Homo sapiens: one gene and its partners. The protein of the gene in region 1 purifies or fractionates together with the protein of each later gene. This does not show direct contact. Each region holds a gene or a part of one and is shown in the gene's direction. Other genes may lie near its edges. The genes, in order: BZW2, EXOG, ENDOD1 and MRS2.

Region 1 (7,029 bases):
TTATTATTAATCTGTTTGGTCCCTTCTCATTCTACAGTATACATTAACTAGGTCAAATTTATCTTTGTTTCTCAGGTTTAACCCAGTGTCTTGCACCTAGTGTATGCTCAGTACAAGCTGAGTTGAATTCAGTTTGATTTCTAAGTTATTTTAGGTGGATTTGTTTTCCTACTTGACTAATCCTTCCTGGCAATGTGAGGTGAGGTGGCACTAAGCACGCACAATCATAACCAGAGGCAGAAAGTCTTTAAATGTTTTGGATCTCAAGCTTCTTGACATTCTGATGAATGCTATCAACCAAGAAAAATTGTTCTTGTGCACATGTTACAAATTTGGCATGCCATTCTTAGATTTCCCCATTAAAGACCCTGATTTCCAGCTCTCTACATTAGGAGAATGCTGCCTTTTTGTTGCATTTTTGAGTATTACATCTTTCAGGGTACTGTTTGTCTTGACATTTGACTTTTTTTCCTTAGACTTAGGTATCTTTATTGACTGGATATTTGATAATAAGAAATTTTGATTTTTTTAAGTTGGAAGTAGATTACGGTTATATTTTTAAAAGATTACTTATCTTTTAGAGATAGGAACAGAATTATTTCAGAACTGGATGAGAAGACAGCTGAGATTTGCTTTAATATAATTCTGTGACAGAAAGGAAGAGAGACTGAATGAGAATATAAATGAGATAAAATTGACTATGTTAACAGTTGAAGATGGGTGATGAGTATATTCACTTGATTATACTGTTCTCTCTACTTTTGGATATATTTGAGATTTTCCATAATGAAGTTTTTAAAAAGAAAATTTGGAAGTATTACAGCCTCTAAGAAATCTTTTTTTTTTAAACACAACATAAGAAAGTAATATAAATACAAATGTTCTTTTTTCTATACTTGGAGTTTCGCTTATGTGATTATTCATTTAAGTGTTAAAACAGTTACACCTAAATCTGCAAAGAACTGTCTTGTGAACAATGCGTTTCCATAAACATTTGACATCACATTTTAACTTCTCCAAAAAGTAAAAGGTTGGTGGCATTACTCAGTGCTTGTAGAACAAATTGATGAATATCTTACTGGTAGTTAATCTTCATCTTTTTTGAAAAGAAAATTCTGAAGAAGGGGTACAGATACATTTAGTTTAACTGAGAAAATCAAGAGGTGAATGAAGTGGAGATACTGATGTTCTTCTGTGCGTCATAATCCAACTCAGAAGGCATTCCAAAAAAAAAGAGTACCAAAACTGTTTCGAGCAATGTCAGCACTGATAGGATAAGTATTAGTCTAGGAAAATCAGGAGCAGGCCCAGGACAGGGTGTGACTGGTAGGTTCTTACTCAGTGTTTGCTTAGCTGAATACTTAATCTGACACCTACTTTCTAATTTGTGCAATTTTTTAAACTGATTTTTTGATCTTTACAATTTTTTATTGTGTTTTAGATATATTAAATGTCCTTTATAACATGTCATCCTAGACTTTGGGATTTTACAAGAATATTTAATTAATATGAAATCCACCAATCTTAGCAGGTCATAAACAAGAATACTTTTCATTCTTAACTCACTCATTTCTGTGTATTGAGGCCATGGCGCTCTTTAGCAAGTATCTTTTGGGCAGTTAGGTGCCGAGTGGAATGATTTGCCCCGTTCTAAATTTGGCGTGTATTAAGTGAAGAGTGCCAAAATTGTTCAGGTAGTCATATTTGTAAACTATCTATTTTGAAAATAAAGATTTGAATAACTCATTGAATGAACCATTCTTTAAGGTTAAATGCCAAAAAGATAATGTTCTCATTATTCTTTCTTGATTTTTAGCAATAGGTGTTTCCATTGATGTTTTTTAAGTTTATTCAAAAATTAAAGGAAAAAAGTATAATGACAAAAAGAAAGAATAATGCCCTGTATTAATATTTAAGATAGTATAATCCTTTGGCTATCTTTAATTCCATTCTGAAAATATTAATATTTTAGTAGGAAAACAATAACTTAAGATGTAGAATTATTTTTTGTGTCAGATGTAGCATTATATTTTCTTTTTACATCTCAACTTATTTTTATGCTAGATGAGAACTTTAAAAAATATAACAGGTGTACTGTTATTTTTGAGGACTTCTAAATAAATCTCAAGAAAAGCCCTGGGGCAGAGATGAATAATAAGGGATAATAACGTTTAGCACTGTAGAGAATATATCATAAGCTACTATTGGATGATATTCTACTGTCATCCTTTTTATATATCCACACAGAAGACTTTAATGGTTTTCAAACTAACCTGGATTTATGGTCATTTCTAAGAAGAAAAAAGAAATGTTATATGTTTTTCTCAGTGAACAAGGTAATTGAATGGGACTATTATAAACAGGAAAGAGAACCCCTAGTTGTCGGTGCAGAGGAAACTGCTGGCTGGAGGAAAAGGATGCGGTGTTAGTATTTGGGAGTGTGAAGATTGTGTTTGTGTTAGAGTTGAGCTTCTGCAGGAAACAATTTAAAAACTGTATCCTATAGTGCTAGAAATTATGGTGCCATAAATTTTCTAATATTCGTATGTCCCTAAGAGGCAATATTGTTAAATTCTCTCTCTAAAGATAAATGCCTTTTCCCCCCCACCGCTTAATAGAACTCTATGGAGAACTCTTTGGTATTTTGGAAGTAACATATGCTAATTCAATTTATCCAAGTGCTGAACTCAACTTTAAATTAATATTTATGCGCTACTCCATCTTATTCCAAACTATAAAATTTATGAGGCAAATAATGAAAAAGCTGTCTTCGAGAATCATATAAATAATTCTCTAAGACATTGCAACAGCTTTAGTTGGCTCCTTGGAAAATGCACTGAGTGGAGACAGTGGATCAGGTTCTGGCCCCAACTCTTCCATGTACATAAGCTCCAGATGGGCAGGGATCGTTCTGCTTTGATCTCCACTGTCTTACCAATGCTAGAATGGAATTCCTGACCTCAGCCAAGTGGTTTGACATCTCAGTGCCTTATCTGAAGGTTAGCTTAGGGACTGGGCTTACATCCATGGTTTTCAAAGTATTCCATTCCGCGTGGATGCCACTTGTAAGTTACAAAGTAAAAAAACACGCACTTAATTATTAAAACGTTAATAAACACAACTGCATCTCGAATGCATCATATGTTGTCTTTAAACATACTGGAGACAATCAGTGCTTGCTAACTTGTTCTGCCCGATTGTGCAATACTTGGAACAAAGCTCCACCTGCTAGAAAGTGACCTCCATGAAATTTGCCTGATTTAGTGCTTGCTGCATCCCTATTGACTAGTACCAGACCTGGTATATTTGGCAAACAAATAAATGAATGATTCTCTGTAGGTTTAAACCTTTTTCTTTTGAGACGGAGTTTCGCTGTTGTTGCCCAGTCTGGAGTGCGATGGTGTGATCTCGGCTGACTGGCTGACTGTAACCTCTGTCTCCTGGGTTCAAGTGATTCTCCTGCCTCAGCCTACCGAGTAGCTGGGATTACAGGCGCCTGCCACCATGCCTGGCTAATTTTTGTATTTTTAGTACAGACGGGGTTTCACCATGTTGGCCAGGCTGGTTTCGAACACCTGACCTCAGGTGATTCGCCCGCCTTGGCTTCCCAAAGTGCTGGGATTACAGGCATGAGCCACCATACCTGGCTTAAACCTTTTTAAAATGTATGATTCAGAGAGCTTGTAGCTCTGTACTAGTTCTTTTTTATTTCCTTTAATTCAATTTTGTATGGTCCACTTCTGTAAAGTTGTGTTGGGGAATCCAGTCCCATGTCATCAGCGTGCCCTAGACTAGGCTTGGCATTTCTATCCAGTTCATGCTCTCATTATGTAATAAGCATGCATATGGAAAGTAACTTTGTGTGTGTGTGTGTGTGTGTGTAGCCCTTCAAATAAAGCTTCACCTGCTAGACAGGCTTGGGCAGGTCCCCTTCTGGGAGGATGGGAGTTTCTTGGTTGAGAGAACTAGTAAGTGAGCCAATATTTGGACTCATGCCCACCACCACCTTTGAGCTTCCTGAAGGTCCACTATTACGATTTTTAAGCAATTGCTCCAAAACAGAATTCTCTCACTGTCTACCAGTCTAGGCCTTACTTTTCTTTTTATTTCTTTTTTTTCTGAAGATTTTATTTTCCTCTTTTCCATGATTAAAAATCCTCTGAAGAGAGGCAAACACTTCAACACTCTTTTACTTTAATAACTTGTCTTCTGACTTCCCACTGGAGTAATAGTCACCAACACTCCCATCAGTTTTGTGTCTGTCTTAAACTAACTTGCTCTCTGGCATTGCCACTCCACTTCTTGCTGATTTTCATCTCCTGGTTCTCCTCACCTCAGTTAGCAAGGCCAGTGTTGTGTGTGCTGTCCATAGCTCCTTTCCTCTAGGTGGAAAGTAAATCTCATATAAAATCATCTTTCTCCTCTACTATGTAAAGCTCAACATGTATTTAGGTATCTTCCAGTGAAAAAGCACTTTTCTGGAGGAAGGAACATTGGAGATGAGAATACTCATTAATAATAAATATTACTTTTGTCTTCAGTGGAGGTGAAAATCTCGAATGCATAGGCATTTTCTAAAAGGTTACATAGGATGATGTTAAAGGGTTTAAATTATTATCATCTCCATGGAGTGGGGCTAGGATATAAGGTCAAGAGTGAAAGATTGGGAAGAGCACTACCCTTCTGTACTGTGTTGGGGTTTTTTGTTTGTTTGATTTTGTTTTGTTTTTGCCATCAGTGTGTTATTACTTTAAAGTTTTAAATCACTAGTTAAAATAATATAGAGACTGGCTGGGCATGGTGACTCATGCCTGTAATCCCATCGCTTTGGGTGGCCAAGGTGGGCAGATCACTTGAGGCCAGGAGTTCGAGACCAGCCTGGCCAACATGGCAAAACCCCATCTCTACAAAAAAAAAAAAAAAAAAAAAAAAAAAATACAAAAATTAATTACTTGGGAGACTGAGGCACGAGAATCCAAGGGAGGCAGAGTTTGCAGTGAGCTGAGATTGTGCCACTACACTCCAGCCTGGGTGACAGAGTAAGACTCTGTCTCAAAAAGTAATAATAATAATATAGAGACCATCTTGCTTTTTTCTAAGCTTAAAATTATAATATTATTAACAAATTTCAAGGACATTTCCTTCTCTATAAGAGTTTCTGCTTTTCCTAAAGTGATGCAATGGAACAGATGACTTTTAAAATAAAGATTCAGAGAATATCACTGAATCAAGTTATATAACTCCAAGTCCAAATGCAAATCATTTTTAAATTGTATTTTAGCATAATATGAGAAAAGATGGTAGAATTTAATTTTAATTTTTTTCTGTATATAACCCCCCCCCCCCAAAAAAAAACGGATGATATTTATTTATTTATGAGACGGAGTCTTGCTCTGTCAGCCAGGCTGTGATACAGTGGCATGATCTTGGCTCACTGCAACCTCTGCCTCCAGGGTTCAAGTGATTCTCATGCCTCAGCCTCCCAAGTAGCTGGGGTTACAGGCGTGCAACACCATGCCTGGCTAATTGTTTTTTTTTTTTTTAGTGGATACACGGTTTCACCATGTTGCCCAGGCTTGTCTCAAACTCCTGACCTCAGGTGATCCGCCTGCCTCAGCCTCCCAAAGTGCTGGGATTACAGGCATAAGCCACCGTGCCCAGCCTGTATACTATACTGTGTTTAAGTGTGAACAGTGGTCATTACTGAAAGTTAGACTGATAGATTTTTTCTAATTTTTCCTTAAATATTCTATAATATACATGATGAGCTGACCTTATAATCAGTGATTTTTAAAGGTTACCTCTCACTTTCAAATAAAGATGCTGTTGTTTCTCAGCTTAATCACCTACTTTTTTGCTTCTGTTCAGTATTTTGTCATAAAAACCTGGTTGGACACACCAGATAGCTTCAAAGTGGCCACCTACTTTTTTCAATGGATTAGACTCTGAATGATCTCTGGCGACTTTCTAAAATTAAATCCTCTATCAAACAAGGAAATTTCTCATCATTGAGTATAGTCAAAAGAATGATCTGTAGACTCCAGAGGAAATTCTAAAAAAAGTTTCATAAATCTATTAATTAAAAGGGGTTTTGTTTAATGGAAGCATTATTAGTTCATAGTTTTTCTTTATTGAAGGAAGAAATTACTTTGATGGGTAAATGCTGGAAAATGTTTTTTTAAATTACTTAAGTTACTATGTAACATTTTTGTTTTTAACTGACATATAGTAATTTTTCATATGTGGGGTACAGTGTGGTGTTTCCATATACATATACATTGTGTAATAATTAAATCAGGGTGATTAGCATATTCATTACATTGAACACTCATCATTTCTTTCTGGTAAGAACAATCAAAATCCTTTCTTCTAGCTCTTTTGTAGTATATGATACATTATTGTTAACTATAATAACTCTATTGTGCAATAGAACACTAGAGCTTATTCTTCCTAACTGTAACTCTGTACCTGTTCACCAATCTTTCCCCATCCCCACCTCACTCCTATTCTCCTGTCTCCAGGAAACTACTATTCTACTCTCTACTTCTGTGATACCAACTTTTTTAGATTCTACATGAGTGAGATCATATGATATTTGCCTCCCAAAGTGCTGGGATTACAGATCGGAGCCACCATGCCATGCCCTAAAATACATATGGCTTCCTGTGTTTGCCATTGCTCCAGGGTTCTATGTGTACATAATCAGTTTTATTTCTTAATCATTTGAGAGTAGGTTGCATACACTTTCTGCCTTTATCTCTTATTTCTTCAGTATTTATTCTGTAAAAATAAGATACTTTTCTTACAGAACCACAGTGCAAAAAAAAATTCAGTAAATTTTAACATAGATACCATAATTTTATCTTTATACTCCAACTTCTTAGGTTGTCTCAATAGTCATATATATGTGTGTGTGTGTGTATGTATATATACATATATATGTGTGTATATATATAAATGACTATATATATATATACATAAATATTTTTTCCCAGTACAGCATTCAGTCCAGGAATGTGTATTGCATTT
Region 2 (6,493 bases), on another chromosome or scaffold:
AACTCCCAGTTGACTTCCAATTTTTGCTACAGTCTTGAGTAGAGTTCAGTGCTTCTTGGGAATTTAATAGCAGCAAGGGTTTCCTTTGCAAAATATTTTTATACCTAAATCTTACATGAAAAGGGTTGTTTGCTGACTCACTGATTAACTAGACTTGGTTTATGTTAAGCCTTTGAGTCCTTTGTTACAGACATCATTTGTGCCCAAGTTGCTTTCTCCTCCTGAAACCCCATTGCTGACCTGTAACTAGTCTAATCTTGCTTGATTATACGTTTCCCCCGCCCCCATCCCTCTGTAAAACCATCTTTTGTACCAAATGCCGTTGTATCTTTTGAATGATGTCCACTACAAAATAGCTTTTTACATAGATCTTGTAGATTTTGAAAAATTTTTAACTAACATGTCATTGTATCTTCATAACAATTCTATGAGAGAGGCATTTATAAAATACAAAATAGCAATCCACCCACGGGGATGGCTGTTACGTATTTTGTAAATGAAGAAACAAGAAATGGGTGGACGCGACTTGCAGCTTAGTGGCAAAGCCAGGTTTGACCAGGTCTCTGGGCTTCCAGTCCACCAAACCTCTAGTAGTGTTTAGAAACATTTCTGGAAGTCTCCCAATTTTTCCAAAAGTAGGAAAAATTTATTATGTAGATTGAGTTGTCTTTAAAGAGACAGCTCTAAAATATTTTACGATTGATGTTGTTTTAAAAAATTGTCTTAAATTCAAGGAAGAAACGGTGTGTTTTTCTGAATACCCAACTAGGACCTGTCCCTATATTAGACAGATTAAAGATGTTTGCTTCCTAAGAACAAAGCAGACTGAATCAGAAAAGAGATTAGTGAGTGGCTAAGTTTTTATTTTTCTCCTTAGTTCTAGGGATAGTATTTTACCCCCTTGAAATAGTGTGAGAAGGTCATGGGTAGAAGGATCACACCTGTGATTCCTAATAGGAATTTCTGTTTCCATGAGGTTTCTCAAAAGTAGAATCGAGGTCCTTTAGCAATTGTAAGAGTTTTTAAACACCTATAGAAATGGTACATTTGCATAAAGTAAAGCTGTAGAACTGAAAATGTCCAACGTCTTTACTTTTGGCTGGAATTTTACGAGCCTGATTAGCTCTGCATGGCAGCAATGGGCATGTTAATTATATTTGAAAATTGCCGTTTGTTTGTAGACAAGGAGTCCATGAGGAGAGAAAATCAAGTGAATGTTCTTGAACTGTACTGCAGTGATGGGGAATGTCCACAAGGTGGCGCAAAGACTTTGTTTAACTGCTGGATTCCTAGCTAGCACCTGGAATACTTGAAGCCCCTTTCACCTTCTCCCTCTTTGCAAACTATGGCTCAGCTGCATCTGTGCCCTCAGTTCTGGTCCCCAGCTTCCCCTGAATCCCCTTCGTGCTGTTATTTGGGCTTTGTATTGGTACCTAACCACATTCTACCTGTAGTGAAAGCTGAAGGTCTTGGTTCCCACTCTAGGTGGTAAGTTTCTTGAGTGGAGGCACCAGCTGCATATACTTTAAAGCATATTCTTTTCTGTATTTCCAGCAATGCCAGGCACAGGACCTCTGAGTTGCATTGTTGAATTAACATCTTTTGGTTATTTGTGAGTTAATTGTGGACTTCCATAGGGTTCTCCCTCAGTATATTTTTGGCTTTGAAGAGTATGTTTATCTTCCCAGCTGCATAAATGAATTTTTGGGGTGAAATGGGGATTTTATGTTTGTAGTACATAGTTTCATAGACTTTACACCACACCCCGACCAACCACTTTCAGTAACTTCGAAGACAGTTGGTTATGGAAATCATTCCCGTGCACGGGTCTTCCCTGAAGCTCTGCAATTGGTCTTGGCAGTGGGACCTTCATGTGTGACAGACAGCAGATGGCCATGGAGTTCCCAGGCTGTGTGCCATGTAGGTAGGAGCTTGAAAAAAGCAGAAAAGAAACCTCCTTTGTAGCTGTCGTGTCTCTGTCTTATTTGGGCTCACAAGAAGGAATCTTGCTGCAGGCAGAGCTGTCTGATCAGGAAAGAAAACTGACTCTTACCAGGGAAGGGCCCGGGAGGGGCAGTAATACCAATGAGCATGTTTTAGTTGGATTATGTCAGTTATTGGGGACCATTAAGTAAATAGATGTTGAGTATTTTCTTTTTCAAAAAAGCCTTTTTGTTTTGTTTTGTTTTGTTTTGAGATGGAGTTTCGCTCTTGTTGCCCAGGCTGGAGTGTAGTGTCACAATCTCGGCTAACTGCAACCTCCACCTCCCGGGTTCAAGTGATTCTTTTGCCTCAGCCTCCCGAGTAGCAGGGATTACAGGCATGCGCCACCACGCCCAGCTAATTTTGTATTTTTAGTAGAGATGGGGTTTCTCCATGTTGGTCAGGCTGGTCTCAAACTCCCAACCTCAGGAGATCTGCCTGCCTTGGCCTCCCAAAGTGCTGGGATTACAGGCATGAGCCACCACACCTGGCCCAGATGCCAATTGGAAGGAAATTTGAAAAGGTTTAGTAATAATGTTATTTCATTAATTTCAGCCAAACCACACAACTAATTTATGTTTTCTAGGCCTGACCCTGGCTCTGGCTTCTTCATTGTGTGGATACCTTTCCAAAATGTTTGATATGACAACATATTTAGAAGTTCTTTGATCACAAGCCCAAGGATGTGCAAAACTCAGAGCAAACAGCATTTACATTTATGTAATTTAATTTTAAAAATTAGCCCTAATTGAAGTGATCCTGGAGATGGTAATGTTGACTTGACACCTGGCTGCTTCTCTAAGGGCTATCTGTTTAGTTCCCTAGTGAATTTCATAAACTAAGGCCATGTTTTTATTTCTAGAGCTGGGAGTACCCAAGCCTGCAGTTTTGACCTTTGAATGTTTGGAGCACCAGAAGTTCTGATTATGAGATGAAGAGAAAATGACAGCTTTTCTTGTCTATTAAAAAACCAGGACTCACTCATGGCATTCCTTTGTCCTTTGTCCTACAAACAGAACAGAGACTGTGACCCCTGATCTTTGGGTTGGCATTATTTTATTTTTATTTTTTGAGGTGGAGTCTTGCTCTGTCGGCCAGGCTGGAGTGCAGTGGTGCAATCTCGGCTCACTGCACCCTCTGCCTCCTGGGTTCAAGCAATTCTTCTGCTTCAGCCTCCCAAGTAGCTGGGATTACAGGCGCCTGCCACCACACCCAGCTAATTTTTGTATTTTTTTTTAGTAGAGATGGGGTTTCACCATGTTGGCCAGGCTGGTCTTGAACTCCTGACCTCAAGTGATCTGCCCGCCTTGGCGTCCCAAAGTGCTGGGATTACAGGTATGAGCCACCGTGCCTCACCTGGGGTTATATTATTTTAAAGAATGTGATCAGAATTGACCTGTTAAATACTCTTCTTGTATGTGAATCTCTGAGTCAGTTTATTATTTTTGGCAGTTGAATTTAAATTCATTAGAACAGAGTGGGATGGCTTATAAGTACATTTCAGCAATGCATTAAATAAGTATTTTTCAGAAAAAATTTGCGAACTGTTAGCACAAATTGGCATCACTAATATGGCTGCTTTGTTTTTAGGTGATTGGCGAGGACAACGTGGCAGTCCCCTCACACCTTTATAAGGTAATCCTGGCCCGCAGAAGCTCAGTATCTACCGAACCACTGGCGCTAGGGGCCTTTGTGGTACCCAATGAAGCCATCGGCTTCCAGCCCCAGTTAACTGAATTCCAAGTGAGCCTCCAGGACCTAGAGAAGTTGTCAGGACTGGTGTTTTTTCCTCATTTGGATAGAACTAGTGATATCCGGAATATCTGCTCTGTGGACACCTGTAAGCTCCTGGATTTCCAGGAGTTCACCTTGTACTTGAGTACAAGAAAGATTGAAGGAGCCCGATCAGTGCTCAGACTGGAAAAGATCATGGAAAACTTGAAGAATGCAGAGATTGAACCAGATGATTACTTTATGAGTCGCTATGAGAAGAAGCTAGAAGAACTCAAAGCTAAGGAGCAGTCAGGAACCCAGATAAGAAAGCCATCCTAGTTTTTATCTCAAGATGTGTCATACCGTCTGTAATGAAGCAGGCATGCCCTCTTTAGGCTAACATATTTTAGTGGCTTTGCTTTTTGCTTTTTAAAAAGTTTTTCTCTTTAAGAGATGTGGTCTCGCCGTGTCATCCAGGCTGGAGTGCAGTGGTGGAATCATAGCTCACTATAGCCTCAAACTTCTGGGCTTAAGCAATCCTCCTGCCTCTGCCCCCTGAGCAGCTGGGACTACAGGCACACACCATCACCCTCAGCTACTAGTGGCTTTGCTTTAAAGAAACAGTGGAATCCTAAATTTATGACTAAAAATTCCCCCAAAAGATGAAAGATCTACAATGTTTTTGTCAGTATTATATTTGACTCAGGAACTAATTATTAAGGGAGCTTTGACACCTGCAGATGGAGGGCTGATCTTGTGTCAAGTTAACAGGAAGACTGCCCACAGATGACACTGCATTTGTATCCCTGTGGATGTAGAGTATTGGGAAGGCATTTGTTTAGTTTCATGCCTCCAAACCATGCATTGTCTGTGATGTATCTGCCCAGCCTTCTCAGAACTCAATGTTGTACATTTTTCCCTCTAGGACCTGAATTGGTCTTGGAGGCAGCTTTTAGAAATCCTCTGTGTAGTTCCTGTCCACATGCACTATATATTTGTTTCTTTTTTCTCCTCTCATGAATCTGCTCGTTTCTCTACTTCTGTCTACGTAGAAGCACTCAGCAACTAGTTTCTGCTCATTAAATGTGTTCTATATACTAGGCTCAGTGCTTTACATGTGTTGTCTCACAATGACTCTCTGAGGTAAATACACTATCCCCATTTTACCTGTGAGAAAATTGAGGCTTAGAGAGCTTAGTGTCTTACCTGAGTTTCACTTTTCCAAAGTAGTCATCCACAAAGTATGAGGCAGACAGATCTAAGAGAAGAAAGACAGCTGAGGTAGATTCAAATCTTTTCTGACATGGATGGTGGCTTTTTACTCAGAAATATATACCTATTTCCATGGGTATTTGTGGGCCTGAGGCATGCTTGGCAAGAAGAGTCTGGTTTCTCGTCTGCTATGCAAGCCAAAGGGACTTTAATGTTCTTTGAATTGAACCCTCCTTAGCTCTGTGGAAAGAGACAGTCAGGAATATTTGGGAATTAGACGGCAATACTTTGTGGGGTTTATTAGAGCCCATGCTTGCCTCCAGAGATACAGTTCTTTTAGTGACCAGATACTGCCAAATTGATGTGTTCTTGCTTTCCAGGTGAGCTTTTTGTTCTTAAGATTAAGAAACCTATGAAGGATCTGCAGCCAGGCATGGTGGCTCAGGCCTATAATCTCAGCACTTTGGGAAATCGAGGTGGGTGGATCGCTTGAGCCCAGGAGTTTGAGACCAGCCTGGGCAACATAATGAAACCCTATCTTTACAAAAAAATACAAAAATTAGCTGGGCGTGGTGGTGCACACCTGTAGTCCCAGCTACTCGGGAGGCTGAAATGGGAGGATTGCTTGAGCCTGGCAGGTCAAGGCTGCGATGGGACATGGTCATGCCACTGGACGCCAGCCTGGGCCACAGAGGGAGACCCTGTCTCAAAAAAAGAAAAGAAAAAAGAAAAAGGTCTGCCCACAAAATCACTAGCTTATTATTTGCTTCCTGTGTGCCTGCTTGTCTACCTAGCATAGTAGGCCAAAGGTCCAAAGGCATTTAGCATTCCTAGGGGAAATTGTGGCTGTTTTTCTGAGCCAGATCTCTTGATTTGGGTTTACACGGAGTCCTTTCATGGACTATCCTGAGTATTGTCAGTAAAACGTCTTGGGGCATAAGAACTTGTCTGAATCTGTCATACATACCACTGCTGTCTTTTCCGAGTGGTATTACAAGAAAGATTTTTGTGGTGTGTTTGTTCTAAGAGAAATGCCAAGGCTTTCAGATAAAGATAAGATGATAATGATTGACATTGTTCTGCTCTTTTATTTGGGTAAAAAAGGAAAGTTGAGGGGTCAGAACACAGTAGCCTGATTAGTACCATTCTGTTTTGTCACACTGTTCCCCATTAGCTTGTACCAGTTCTCCTCTTCTCGGGGATGTAGAGCCAAAATGTCACTGTGACCAAACAATCTGTTCAATTTTTTCTCCTCAATGGAGAGGTGATGGTGTGGCCTGGGTGTTTCTCCAGGAGTGTGAGTGGGCAGCTCTGTGGGATAAGTCCTAGGTACCTACTGCCCATCTCTAGAGGCGGGCCCCCAACTCCCTTCCCCTGTTGCTCTGTTCTGCCGACCTGCATTGCCAGCAGCCTTGGAGTTACTTATGCTCTTCTTGCTCGTTCCTCTCCACCTAGATGGTAGAATCTCTTATTTTTAGATCAATGAAGTTTTTTTTTTTTTTTTTTTTTCCACTGGGGCATTCCTGAGTTTATTTGGGGCACACCCGGGTGAGGGCCCTGCCCCTAGAAGAAGGTGTTGGGCCTC
Region 3 (7,123 bases), on another chromosome or scaffold:
AAAAAAAAAAAAGCTAGATGAAATGAGTGAAGGGATGAGAATGGGTGGTGAGAATTCCAGGACAAGGGAAGTAGTTTATGATGCAAAGTTTCAAAGACTAGAGAGAGCATCAGGCTGAGTTCAGTGGCTCAAATCTGTAATCCCAGCACTTTGGAAGGCCAAGGCAGATGGATCGCTTGAGCTCAGGAGTTCCAGACCAGCCTGGGCAATATAGCAAAACCCTGTCTTTACAAACAATACAAAAATTAGCTGATGTGGTGGCACACGCTTGTAGCTGCAGCTACTAAGGAGGGTGAGGTGAGATGATCAATTGAACCCATGACATTGAGGCTGCAGTGAGTTGTGACTGCACCATTGCACTCCAGCCTGGGTGACAGAGAGACCCTGTCTCAAAAACAAAACAAAAGAGAGAACACTGTGCATTCATGGAAATATAAGAAGCTGAGCGTGTGGGCAAGGTGGGAGTGGAGAGAGATGAGGCCTGAGAGGGAAAGGCCAGGTCTCTGGGGTCATGGAAGTCAGCTAGTATGTCAGGCTGCATCCCAAGGTAAATGGAGAGTGATTAAGTGCTGTAAGGGTAGGGTGACATCATCAGATTTATGTTAGGAAGTCATCCCAGCTGGAGAGTGGATTAGAAGGGATGACGGGATAAAAACTGGGCATGACAAATGAGGATGGCTTGGTCAAAGGTGTGATGGTAGAGATGCAATTATCATCAGAGCAGTGAGGCAGGGGAAAGAAGTGTCTAGTTGGGCTCATATTTTTAAATAACTTTGGACAGAACCAACCAAGCCACAGAAGTGCATGTCAAATGTTTTATTCCACATCAACCATTACTTTTCATCCTCAAGCCTTTGCTGAAGGCTATGGAACCCAGCTTTGGCTGGGTCTGAGTGCAGAGACCTAAGAGGATCTGGTTTGAAACCTCTTTCCCTGTGAGAAGAGAGTCAGTGACCAAATGTAGAGACAGCAGTGAATTATTGATGGACCTACATGTTTTACACATACAGATGCTGCTAAAGACAGTTTTCCCCTAAAATCAGCAGTTAGCAAATGTTTTAATTAGATCAAGGCATTCCTACCTTGTAGGTTGTTCCAGAATCTTGGGGTGAGAACATTTGTAATTTGCAAAAGTAATATTTTATCTGTGGAAGGCAAGCACATGGAAGAAAAATCTATTGTCTTGTACTATAAACTAAAGAAAATAAACAAAATCATCCTGGCTGTGGGATGTACAAATGTTCAGTGTTATATGTGTGTCAGTCACTGATAGAGGGCTGGGGAAAAAACTAAAGTCTGCCACAGGGACTGAGTGGCAGAGATATTTATGCTTATCAGAGGTGGCGGGCAGGCATCAAGAAATTTTGAGAAAGTGAATTAAAGTCTTATAAATACTTTAGTCATAAAGGCCAATGATGATTGTATTATACTTTCTGCATTTGTTAAAATACAACATAATCATATTTGGCATCTAATCACTCCAGATTTTGTGGTAGCCACTGGGATCCACCAACCACCTTTGTCCCTAGGAGCACATGATTTAATAAAGAAGACAGATACAGGGACTATTAACACTCTACCATGATAAGTATCATAACAGATAAATGTTTAAAGAACTCAGAGAAGAGAGGGATGGATTTCTAGTTGTTCAACTGTGTTTATATATCTTTATGGTAGACATCATAAGTCAACATTGGGGAACCCTATATTCAACCTTATAAAATAATGTAAATATTTTTAAAATCCTGTAAAACCTATAATCCTCCCAGCATCCCAGGAGCAGCATTGTCCCTGTGGGAGGACTTGATTGAAGCCTACAAGGATGAGATGACTGAGATACTAGTACCAGATGATCAGGGTCATCATCCAGATCAAAGGGGACTTCAAGTCTAGCCTCTTCTGTGACATCACACTAAATGTGTCCCCTCCTTTTTTTAAAAAAACTAAGATACAAACTTTGGTTTCATTTCTGGGACCAAACATAGTCAACATTTTCCGGAATTAAAACCTGTAAGAAATTTGTTCTTAAGTTCCAATGTATAATCTCTTGAAGAGCTTCCTTCTTTATGGGCTCACCTTACAGATGCGCTGTGAGTTAAAAGAAAAGGCCAGGCTTGGGAAGCAGAGAGACCTGTTTCAAATCTGTCTTAGGACTCACTGGCTGTGCCAGCTTAGGCCAGAATCAACAGGCTCTGGTCTCAGTCCCTGTAGTGGCACACTGGGGAAACAGATGACATCGTAAGATGAGCACAGGCCCTGGCCCTGGGTAGCTGCCTTGACCCTATCTCTGCTGCCACCATCCTACCATCCTGGTCCAAGCTACCATCTCTTATCTGGATTGTGGCAATTATGGGGTGTTTTTCTTTTCTTTTCCTTTTCTTTTTTGAGACAAAGTCTGGCTCTGTTGCCCAGGCTGGAATGCAGTGGCACAATTTTGGCTCACTGCAACCTCCGCCTCCTGGGTTCAAGCGATTCTCCTGCCTCAGCCTCCCAAGCAGCTGGGATTACAGGTGCCCGCCACCACACCCAGCTAATTTTTTTGTGTTTTTAGTAGAGACGGGTTTCACCAAGTTGGCCAGGCTGGTCTCAAACTCCCGACCTCAGGTGATCCGCCTGCCTCAGCCTCCCAAAGTGCTGGGGTTACAGGTGTGAGCCACCCATTTATTCTGTGCCACTTCAATCTACCAGTCTCTTCCCTGATAGCAAAAAGAATCGAGTCACCACCTTTAAAAGATGAAAATCCTCAACATGATTTACAATATTTTTTCCAAACTGCAGGTCATGAGCCATTAGTGGCTCATAGAAACAATTTAGTGGGTCAACACCAGCACTTTTTTAAAAAAGTGAAGTAGAACAGAAATATGAAATTGCAATGCCAATCATAAGCATAAGAATTATTTCATCAAACTTTTCTCATTATGGGCCTTCTCAAAAAGTGTTTGAAGGCCTCTGGCCTATAATAACCTGAGTAATATGACCCCTGCCTCCTCCTTTAGCCCCACTTCCCATCATCCCCCACGCGGTTCTCCGCGCTTTACCCACACTAGCCTTCCTTAAATTCCTCCAATACATCATGTTCCCTTCTGTGGGAGACCACTTAGCACATGGTTTTCCTCCTTGCCTAGTTAATGTCATCCTCCAGGTCTCAGCTCAGATGCCACTTCTTCAGGCAAACCTTCCCGGATTACATCCTGAACCCCTGTAGCTGTCAGGGTCTCACAGATCTGTGTTCAGTTTTTAGTTATCCCTTTAATAGCATGTTTCCTCGGTTAATGACAAACTTTCCCACTAGGCTGTCTTTGTGACCGCAGGAGCCCTGCTCTTGTTTACCCCTGTGGTAATCCAGTGCCTATCTCAGGCTGGCACCTAGGCATTCAGAGGGATAAATGAAGGAAAGAATTGGCCAACCTGTTGACCAATGACGTTGGCTGGCCTCCTTCCTTGCTTGGTATCGGTTTTGTTTCTAACACTTGCACCAAGAAAACCACACAGGGTTATACTGTCTGCCTAGTTTAGGAACTTCCTTTAACAGTATTTCTTTACTCTCTGAGTTTCTGGTGAGCTAAAAAAACATAACAAAAAACAAAAAACTCCATCAAAATTGTATGCGTGTGCTGGTCGTTGAGTACTTCGGTGGAGAGTGGGAGACGCATCTTCATGAAATTTCAGAGGGGAACTCTGCCCATCCACTCCGAACCAGCCGCAGCTCCACGAGCATCTCACGCCACCCCTCTGCATCACCAGGGCGGCCGTGGGGCGCGCGCGATCAGCAGGCTTCTTGGCGCCCAGTCCATGCGACTATCTCTTCCCAGCCCCGGGACTAGGCCCGCCCCACTCGGATTCTCCACTCTTGGTAGCGCGCGTCCCCCGGACTGCTGAGACCAGGCGGCGCGGAGGCAGGTGACCCGCGTCTCCAGTCCCGGGCGCAGCCCAGGGTACGTTGTCAGCATCGCGGAGCGCGGCCCTGGGCCTCTGCAGCCATCTTCAGGGAGGGAGGCGCGGCCTCCCGACGCGGACCCGCCCCCGCCGCCCGGGCCGCCCCGCCCGGCTCCGCAGAGCGCCGCGCCTAGGTTGCGACTTCCCTTCCCTACCCTGCTCGGCTGCGTAGTGCGCTCCCCGCCCAGCCTGCAGAGCTCGCGCCGCGGCAGCCCAGCCGCTCGGCCCCGCCGCGCTCGCAGAGGCCGCCATGGGCACCGCGCGCTGGCTCGCGCTGGGCAGCCTCTTCGCCCTGGCTGGGCTGCTGGAAGGCCGGCTCGTGGGCGAGGAGGAAGCCGGCTTTGGCGAATGTGACAAGTTCTTCTACGCCGGGACCCCGCCTGCGGGGCTGGCGGCCGATTCCCACGTGAAGATCTGTCAGCGCGCGGAGGGTGCTGAGCGCTTCGCCACCCTCTACAGCACCCGGGACCGCATCCCCGTGTACTCCGCGTTCCGCGCCCCGCGCCCTGCGCCCGGCGGCGCCGAGCAGCGATGGCTGGTGGAGCCGCAGGTAAGCGAAGTGGTTCCCGAGCCGGGCTGCGGGCGCCGGAGACCGTGCCGCTGGACATGCCCCCAGTTGCAGCTACCGCGAGGGGCGGGCCGGGAACAGCAATCCCTACGCCTTCGGTGCCTTGGGCCAAGAAACCCGGGTTCCAGGTCCACCCTGTTGCGTCCCCGGAGTTAGCCTGCCTCGCCCCTGTCGAGCTACAATAAGAGCCTGGCGATCTGCGAGCCTTCACTTCATGAGCTGCAGGGCGGGAGGTCCCCTGTGGGAGGAGGTTCTCCCTGCATTTCTGAGCAGACATCCGCAGTGTTTCATTCCTGAATGGTGAAGAGCTTGATACAGAGACCCTGGAGACCGTTCAGATCCGCAGAAAGCCTAGGCTGGGCGCTCACAGGCCTTCGTGCAACTTATTGCCATAGCACTCATTTGGAGGTGGGTAGGTGGGCATTTTCATCCCCATTTTACAGAAGAGGAGATAAACCCAGGGGGTGAAGAGACATATGGAAGACTACCCAGTTAGTAAGATGGGGCAGGTCTCTGTCTAGAAATTCACTGCCTTTTCTACTAAGTAAAGCTTCTCTTCTGCAGAGCTCATCCTAGCCTGAAAATCCTTCCTCTACCACGGCGTTGAGTAAATTCGATCTGCGGTTGTGTTGAATTAGAACAATGAAATAAAGATACAGATTTTTAGAAACGCAATGGGGTAGTTAAAAATGATAGGGAAACATTGACTACCTCCAACTGATGGAAAGATAAGCCAGTTTTTCCTGACTCCTCATATCTATATTATCATACCACTAGGAAATCGTGTCACCTCTCATGGTGTTCTGTCCCGTCTGGTAAAGGTGACCAAACACTTGAGAAGCCCTCAGAGTCTTCCGAACCTGCTGGCCTGCTCTTAATACCTCTCCTCAGTTGGCCTCCTCTCTAGAACACCCTGCCAGACTCCCCTTTGCCCTCTCACCAGCCTCCCACCCCTGCCCAGGCTGCTGGGGGAAGAACTGACCCAACGCTCTCCCTTTCCTGACGGCCACAGCTGCCCAGGACCACACCAGTGGACAGGAGGCTGGCTTTCAGGTGCTTTATTCAGAGCCTGTGGGTTGTAATCTCATTCAGATATTTCTAGCTCTGAGGTCTTGGCCAGGTCTCAAACAATCTGCACCTAGTTTTCTTATCTTCCTCACATCCTTCCACCTACCTCAACTGTTGATAACACTTGTCGAGATCAGGCATGTGAAAAAGACGTTGTCAGTTGCACACACAAGACACATTTAAATCCAAAATTAGTTTTCCACCAGCTGCACCCCTAGAGCTCACAGGGTGTTCCCCACCTCTCATCTTGCATTGTGATTGTGTGCCTGCGAAGAAAACAAATGAGCTAGTTCTTTCCCCTTGATCTCATGGACAGCTTGGGGAGACAGAACATACGTCTGAGGAAATCATGGGAATGGATGCTAAACAAATTTCAGTTAAATTCAGAACACATTTAGTGACTCCTGCTGTGTGCCAGATATTTGGGACCAAGAGATCTGAGTGCAGTTCTGGAACAAAGGCTACCTGATCTGCAGGTGGAGTTTGCTGGGTGGAGAGGTGGTGTAGTATCTGATTAGAGCCATGCTATGTGGGTTCATATCCTAGTTGCTCCACTGACTAGCTATGAACTTGGGCAGGTTAAATTGGAGATAATAGCATAGGGTGGTGTGAAGATTTAATGAGTTACCATATATAAAGTTCTCAGGTGTGTGACACATGAGTACTAAGTACTAGCTGTTGCTATGACCTAAGCAAAAAACCATAATTTAATAAAGGTGAACAAAGTCCTATTAGATTTAATCTGTCTTTGAGGTGATGGAAGCAAGCCTTAGGGTCAGGATGACATTTCTGCTGTGTGTGGAAAGATAAGGCAGAGTTTAGAAGGGAGGCAAGGAGGAGGACATTTCAAGCAGAGGGAACAAACATCATGAGTGAGAAAGGCATGGCAGATTCAGGGATTTGTGCGTGAAGAAGTTGGAACAGGTAAACTAATACAAATAGATGAATGCACTCAATTGCTCAGAATAAAAAGGAATCATGGAAGGGAGGGATCAGGTGGGGAGGAGCCACCAAGGAAGGCTTAGGGAGGCAGAGCCATTTATGCAGCTAGGGAAGGAGTGAGTCGTAAAGGAGCATAGTTTGACAGAAAGAAGTACAGGGAACCAGGTAACATGGAGACCCTGGGTGAGATAATGAGGAAGGGGACTGTGGAGATTAAAGAAGATGGGAAGGGAGGGTGGAAATAGTTACAAATGGCAGCTTGAGAGGTAAGATGTACAGCGGTTCTGAAGAGTACAAGGGGCCTGAGTTCCTGCTGTGCTGAGAGGTCAGAATGGTCACTGTGGCTGAGCACTGCAGGATGCTTTTCCCTGCAAGGTGGCTGGCCTCCCACATCCACCCGCTCGACCTCAAGTCAAGTCAGCCAGGATCCAGAGAGTATTGGGAGAGAGGGAGGGAGGAGGAGGTGTGAGGTGCAGCTGGGCCTGGAGTGCACTGCAGCAAACCTGCCCCCACTGTTGCCTGCTCCCTGAGGCCCTGCCTCCCAGCCAAGATCCCCACTGCAGAAAGATGCTCAGGGCTCAATGTGTACCCTTGGCGGCTTCCAAGCAT
Region 4 (6,842 bases), on another chromosome or scaffold:
GCTCACGCCTGTAATCCCAGCACTTTGGGAGGCCAATGCGGGTGGATCACAAGGTCAGGAGATCGAGACCATCCTGGCTAACACGGTGAAACCCCATCTCTGCTAAAAATACAAAAAATTAGCTGGGCGTGGTGTCAGGCGCCTGTAGTCCCAGCTACTTGGGAGGCTGAGGCAGGAGAATGGCGTGAACCCGGGAGGCGGAGCTTGCAGTGAGCAGAGATCACACCACTGCACTCCAGTCTGGGCGACAGAGCGAGACTTCGTCACAAAAAACAAAACAAACAAAAAAAAAACTGCTCCTTTCCAAAATTCCCTATCTCAGTAAATAGCACCAGCAAGGCCCTGCTGTTCGGGATACACATTTTGGAGCAACATCTATGCCTCTCTTTCTCTTATATCCCATCTGCAAATGTTGTCAACTCAGCCTTCAATATATGGTACCAAGCCCAACTCATCTTCCCCTCTCCACCATCCCCACCTTAGCCCAAACCATCATCACCATCTCTCTGCTTCCAATTGCCTCTCTGTAGTCTCTTTCCCACACAGCAAGAGTGACCCATTTAAACATAAATCAGATTGTTACCTCTGCTCATTACCTCTCTGCTCGAAGTCCTCCAATGGTTCCCACCCTTCTCAGAAAAATCTTTGCCACGAATTACGAGGCTGTACGTCTGGACAGGTTCCAGAGTTTTCCTTAGACTTTGCAAAAGTTATCTTAGAGCTGTCTCATTGTGCTGGGTGCAAATTTTGTTTTAAAGAGAAAGTTATCACATATTTTCTCAAAGAAGCATCTCTGAAGGCATGTAATATGTTTGAAATACTTATCTCATCATTAAAGCTTTAGTAAAATGAAAAATCTACCAGCCATGTTCTCTATACTCAGCGATTTTCCAGACTTCAACGCCCTGGAAGCAATGATTAAAGTTTTTCTTTGCCTTCAATTATCTGAAGGGTTGGGCTGCCCCTCCACACCTGTGGGCATTTCTCATCAGGTAGAATGAGAGACTTGGAAAAGAAAGAGACACACAGACAAAGTATAGAGAAAGAAAAATGGGCCCGGGGGACTGGCGCTCAGCATACAGAGGACCCGCGCCGGCACCGGCCTCTGAGTTCCCCTAGTATTTATTGATCATTATCAGGTGTTTCCTGGAGAGGGGGATGTGGCAGGACAATAGGATGATAGTGGAGAGAAGGTCAGCAGGTAAACACGTGAACAAATGTCTCTGCATCATAAACAAGGTAAAGAAAAAAGTGCTGTGCTTTTGATGTGCATATACATAAACATCTCAATGCCTTAAAGAGCAGTATTGCTGCCAGCATGTCCCACCTCCAGCCCTACGGCGGTTTTCCCCTATCTCAGTAGATGGAATATACAATCGGGCTTTACACTGAGACATTCCATTGCCCAGGGACAAGCAGGAGACAGATGCCTTACTCTTATCTCAAATGCAAAGAGGCGTTCCTTCCTCTTTCACTAATCCTCCTCAGCACAGACCCTTTACGGGTGTCGGGCTGGGGGACGGTCAGGTCTTTCCCCTCCCACGAGGCCATATTTCAGACTATCACATGGGGAGAAACCTTGGACAATACCTGGCTTTCCCAGGCAGAGGTCCCTGCGACCTTCTGCAGTGTTTTGTGTCTCTGGGTACTTGAGATTAGGGAGTGGTGATGACTCTTAACAAGCATGCTGCCTTCGAGCATTTGTTTAACAAAGCACATCCTGCACAGCCCTTAATCATTTAACTCTGAGGTGACATAGCACATGTTTCAGGGAGCACAGGGTTGGGGGTAGGGTTACAGATTAACAGCATCTCAAGGCAGAAGAATTGTTCTTAGTACAGAACAAAATGGAGTCTCTTATGTCTACTTCTTTCTACACAGACACAGTAACAATCTGATCTCTCTTTCTTTTCCCCACATTATCAAGTCAAACATCCTCTCTTCTGTGAAGGCTTCTCTTTGTGCACTGCCCTCCTACTCCATCCCCAGTCCCAGTACCCTGCAGAATAAAATGTTTCTATCTCTGTCTCCTTAGCTTTGTGTCCATACATAGATATTGAAAGGAAGTCTGTGGAACTTGTGTCTGCCTTGTATTACTACTGTGGAAGGGACAATAAATTTATTAACTCATATTTTTAAAATATGCATACATACTGTATTTAACCTAAGACTTTTTTCATATTTTAAAGACTGGAATTGAGATATGTCTTTCAATCTACATGTTTAGAAAGCATAACTTATCAGTTTTTTTTTCTTTCTTGGTGGTACATAAAATAATGGTACCTTAAAATTGATGCTATCTTACATTTTATTAAATATGGAATAGAAATCTTATGTGTCTGTGCTCCTCATTCTTTATAGCAAAAGTTTAATACATGACATCATTCCATATGACAGTTGATTATTTTTGCCACTACTGGGGCTCAAACCATAATACCCCAAAATATGATGTTTTGGCATGCTGAGTCTTTGGGGTTTGTTTGTTTTGAGATGGGAGTCTCACTCTGTCGTACAGGCTGGAATGCAGTACAGGCTGGAATGCAATGGCATGATCTGGGCTCGCTGCAACCTCCACCTCCTGGATTCCAGCAATTCTTATGCCTCAGCCTTACAAGTAGCTGGGATTACAGGCACCTGCAACCACACCCGGCTAATTTTTGTATTTTTAGTAGAGACGGGTTTTGCCATGTTGGCCAGGCTGGTCCTGAACTCCTAACCTCAAGTGGTCCACAACATTGGCCTCCCAAAGTGCTTGGCTCCCAAAGTGCTGGATTACAGGCATGAGGCACCACGCCCGGTGGCATGTTGAGTCTTTGAATTAAAGGAAATTAAAAGGGTCTCAGAAAGAAGCCTAAAAATCAAGGCCTCTCTCTCTCACCTTCCCCCTTCCTTTTGTCTCTCTGATACTCTTACTTTTTCCAAGCACCTGAAGGGGCTCTCTTTTCCTGCACAGCCAGATAAGGAATTTCCTTATCTGACAGAGAAAACTCTTTTCCAAAGAAATGCAATTGTCTTAAAACCCGTTCCTTAGGAATCGCATTAAATAATCAGAAGAGATTAATCACCCAGAGAAGAGACAAAAACTGAAAGTCATAGCCACACTGAGACTTTTCATAGATACTTCTGAGGGTAGCTCCAAGAGATTACCTGGGAAACTTTACCTGTATAATAGGACAATTTTTGTTCAGAGTGAAGTTTCACAGCTTGTCCACAAGCGATTGTTTGTACTTCTGTCCCACTGAATGTCCAAGGAGAATCATTTGCAAACCACTGTCTGGCTTTCGGGCCCATTCATACCTATCTCCCTCTACTCAACAAAGAAGGGTATACAAGCATCTGGACCTTAATTGAGTTATTGAGTAATCACTCTTCTGTGATTTTTCCCTATGCACGTTAAGCAAATTTTGTATGCCTTTTTCTCCTGCTAATCTGTCTACTTAGTTCATTCCAGCAACTTTCAGAGGGCAAAAGTAGGAGCTTTCCCTCTTGCTCCCTACACCACGTTAAATTTAAATATAAATTAAATGATGTGGGAATGGGTAACCTGCTCATTTCCAAACTGCAATTTTCATAGGTATGAAAATTCTCCACAAACTACAAAACCATGACACTCCAAGCGCCCAAGAACCTAGGTTGGACAGCTCACTTAGTGCAGGTAAACGTGCTCCACCCATCTCCCAGCCCGCCTGCCCCCTCACTTAGGTACAGGTGCAGGTACAGGTAGGCAAGCAAACGTCTATTGGCTGTGGACTTAACAGGCTCGCCCACAGGTACCTTCCGAGCATGCGTGGGGAAGTAGCACGCAGGCGCGGCACGCCCCGCGCATGCCTGGTGCACAGAGTCTGCAGGTCGGGCGGTAGCGACAGGTCAGAGCTGCGGCCTGAGCAGCCAGCGTCCGGCATGAAGGTCTGGGGTCTGGCTGCTGCCTGCTTCTTGCTCCAGCACCATGGAATGCCTGCGCAGTTTACCCTGCCTCCTGCCCCGCGCGATGAGACTTCCCCGGCGGACGCTGTGTGCCCTGGCCTTGGACGTGACCTCTGTGGGTCCTCCCGTTGCTGCCTGCGGCCGCCGAGCCAACCTGATTGGAAGGAGCCGAGCGGCGCAGCTTTGCGGGCCCGACCGGCTCCGCGTGGCAGGTACTGCCCTTCCCCGGCAACAGCCTTGGGACGCTGGTCTTGCAGTGACCTTAGACTGCTGCCCCAGCCGTCCGGCGCGGCGCGCCTGTTGCTCCGCGCCCTCCGCAGGCCTCGGCCTCCCGCGTGTCCTGTGAGCTTGCACAGGCCCGCGGGCCGAGCTGCGTCCCACTCGCTCAGAATGCGACCTTGCTATGTGCGCTGTGCCCTGCCGGGGTCCCAGCGGCCAACCCTCTGCCTTCTCCTCCACCGCCCTTGCTGCAGATTATGTAACCATAGGAACAACCTAGGAATCGTTTACAGACCGTGATCACGTTAGTTAACACCCGCTTAAGTGCTCTTGTAAGAGGTTTTTTCTGTGTTGTTTTTGAGACAGGGTCTTACTATGTTGCCCAGGCTGGACTCAAACTCCTTGCCTCGAGCCATCCTAACGCATTAGCCTCGCAAAGCGCTGGGATTACAGGCGTGAGCCACCACACCTGGCCGAGAGGTGTTTTTAAACAAGGATTTCATCTGTTCGGAAGTCATAAGTATAAATTAATACTTCCCTGTTTTCTGTTTCTTCGTTATGGACACATTTATACAGTTGTCCAGTTGCACGGAGATTGGGGACGCACCTAGAAGTGAGGCTAAAGACTGAGTTGTTTCTGAGAACGACTTACTTTCAACTACAGTACTCTATAAGTAAACAGCCAGGGAGATCGGATTGAGAAAAAAAAATCTTATTTGCTGTTTATTTTTTCACCAAATGTTGAAGCATGGTGAAAAGTTAAGATTTTCACAAATGTGAGTGCAAATATTTGAGGAATAAAAGGTATTGAAATGAATGACTTTATTAAGAACATAGCAGTGTCCTCAAATATGTTTTCTCAATTGTGCTCTCAAAAGCCTCCCAAAGTAACTCCTCGTCAGCACCTCATTCTCCACTTATTGGAGAGGCTAAGTTGGGTTACATGCTCTGCACCCTCAATTGATAATGCTTGGGAATCCAGTTTCAGCAAGTTGGAGGAAACTTTTAGGACAAGCATTGACGTTCACAATCTCAATCCCGGTTACACTCTAATTTGTGACATTAAAACATTGAAAGGCATTTGTAATCAGCAAATGCCTTTTACCTTTATTCATCTTACCCTTATAGTGATAATTTGTATTTTGTAAAAGGGAAATGAAACTTCAGATACTAACAAATTACAACAATCATTACGTGTATGTAGTAGAAAAAAGATCAGAAATAGGTTTTTTTTTCTACAGTCTCTGGAATCAGTGTAATTACTTTGGAAGCACAAAACAGTGTCCTCTGTCAGTCATTAAATGTACTTGATTATACTTCACCGCTCACTTCGACTCAGTCTAATCACGTTTTAAATAGACAATTTTAAAATAAAGATTTGTCATTTCAGCTCAGTGGGGGTATTTCATAAGTATTCACTATAAAGGATATCTGTAGAAAAGAAGTAAAATCATAGGTTTCATAATTTATGAGCCAGTCAACTGGAATGCTTGAAAGATCAGGTGGTACTTAGGACCTATGTTTTCTAAAATGTATCTACTACCAAATGTGCATGAAGAGTCTTTTAAATTATGCGAAAAGGAAGACCAGACATTTTCTTAAATCTCAGAACACGATGTTGCACATTTGTTCATCCAACTCTGAGATATCAGTAATAATTAGAAAGGTAAAAGGGTGATTGGAATCCATCAGTTATTTTAATGCCTCACCTAAGCCATTAGTTTTAAAAATCATTCCCTGCCAAACCTAAGATAGTCACTAACAGATGTTAAAATTAAGAAGAGTATTTCTTCTTTTCTTATAGGAAAAATATTTAAAAATAATAAAATAGTCTGAAGGCCTCCACATACTTTGAGAGTTGTATTTTAGCTCTATGTGAAAACCAATCATGTGACCACAGGAATTCTCTTAATTTATTCTTCAGGTGAAGTGCACCGGTTTAGAACCTCTGACGTCTCTCAAGCCACTTTAGCCAGTGTAGCCCCAGTATTTACTGTGGTGAGTATGTACAGTACATTGGAAATCGTACAGAAAGTGCTTCCCATACATAAGTTAACTCGTTGGACTGTTGGCCAAGATACTACTTATTTTGAGCTTTATAATCATCATAGCTACATGTCGTGGCTGTTGTGCCTGGCCAGTGACCTAAGTGCCTGCTAGATTTGCTTAACAATGATCTTGAACCTTTGCTAATGACTGCAGCTCCCCTTTTAATACTAGAACAGGTCAATCACAATTCAGAGCCATAAAGAGGCTTGAACCTATGTTCTGCAAGATAATACGCAGGCAGAAGCATTTTGAAGGCAGCAGAGAGTAGTATTTAAAAATGCATGCTTTGAAAGGTCATGATCTCTAACTTTTCTCTGAAATGGTTCGGGGGTGGGGATGAGGGGGGAAATGAATGAATAAGATAATGTATCACACGTATTTTTAGAGAAAGAAGGCTGTTGGGGCAAAATGTTAACAAAGGTGACTCTAGGTGAAAGCTCTATGGGAATTGGTTGTAATATTCTTGCAACTTCTTTGTAGGCTTTTTTTTTTTTTCCAAAAAAAAAAAAAGTCTTGATAAAAAGGTGTGCCGGCCGGGCGTGGTGGCTCACGCCTGTAATTCCAACACTTTGGGAGGCCGAGGTGGGCAGATCATGAGGTCAGGAGATTGAGACCATCCTGGCTAACACAGTGAAACCCCATCTCTACTA

Evidence for each region.
Region 2: the proteins of BZW2 (region 1) and EXOG purify together in Homo sapiens (co-immunoprecipitation; 3 studies listed by BioGRID and IntAct, with this or other methods). This does not show direct contact.
Region 3: the proteins of BZW2 (region 1) and ENDOD1 purify together in Homo sapiens (co-immunoprecipitation; 3 studies listed by BioGRID and IntAct, with this or other methods). This does not show direct contact.
Region 4: the proteins of BZW2 (region 1) and MRS2 purify together in Homo sapiens (co-immunoprecipitation; 3 studies listed by BioGRID and IntAct, with this or other methods). This does not show direct contact.

The regions. Positions count from the first base shown.
Region 1 is NC_000007.14:16,649,176-16,656,204, forward strand, and holds part of BZW2 (eIF5-mimic protein 1), read left to right. Parts: intron 1-7,029. UniProt on the Homo sapiens protein: Translation initiation regulator which represses non-AUG initiated translation and repeat-associated non-AUG (RAN) initiated translation by acting as a competitive inhibitor of eukaryotic translation initiation factor 5 (EIF5) function.
Region 2 is NC_000003.12:38,520,328-38,526,820, forward strand, and holds the end of EXOG (nuclease EXOG, mitochondrial isoform 1 precursor), read left to right. Parts: intron 1-2,845; exon of another isoform or gene 2,846-3,318; intron 3,319-3,573; coding exon 3,574-4,035; 3' UTR 4,036-5,976; downstream 5,977-6,493. UniProt on the Homo sapiens protein: Endo/exonuclease with nicking activity towards supercoiled DNA, a preference for single-stranded DNA and 5'-3' exonuclease activity.
Region 3 is NC_000011.10:95,085,742-95,092,864, forward strand, and holds the start of ENDOD1 (endonuclease domain-containing 1 protein precursor), read left to right. Parts: upstream 1-4,104; 5' UTR 4,105-4,186; coding exon 4,187-4,486; intron 4,487-7,123. UniProt on the Homo sapiens protein: May act as a DNase and a RNase. Plays a role in the modulation of innate immune signaling through the cGAS-STING pathway by interacting with RNF26.
Region 4 is NC_000006.12:24,399,101-24,405,942, forward strand, and holds the start of MRS2 (magnesium transporter MRS2 homolog, mitochondrial isoform b precursor), read left to right. Parts: upstream 1-3,835; 5' UTR 3,836-3,946; coding exon 3,947-4,136; intron 4,137-6,067; coding exon 6,068-6,141; intron 6,142-6,842. UniProt on the Homo sapiens protein: Magnesium transporter that mediates the influx of magnesium into the mitochondrial matrix and regulates magnesium metabolism. Also permeable to calcium, sodium and potassium ions.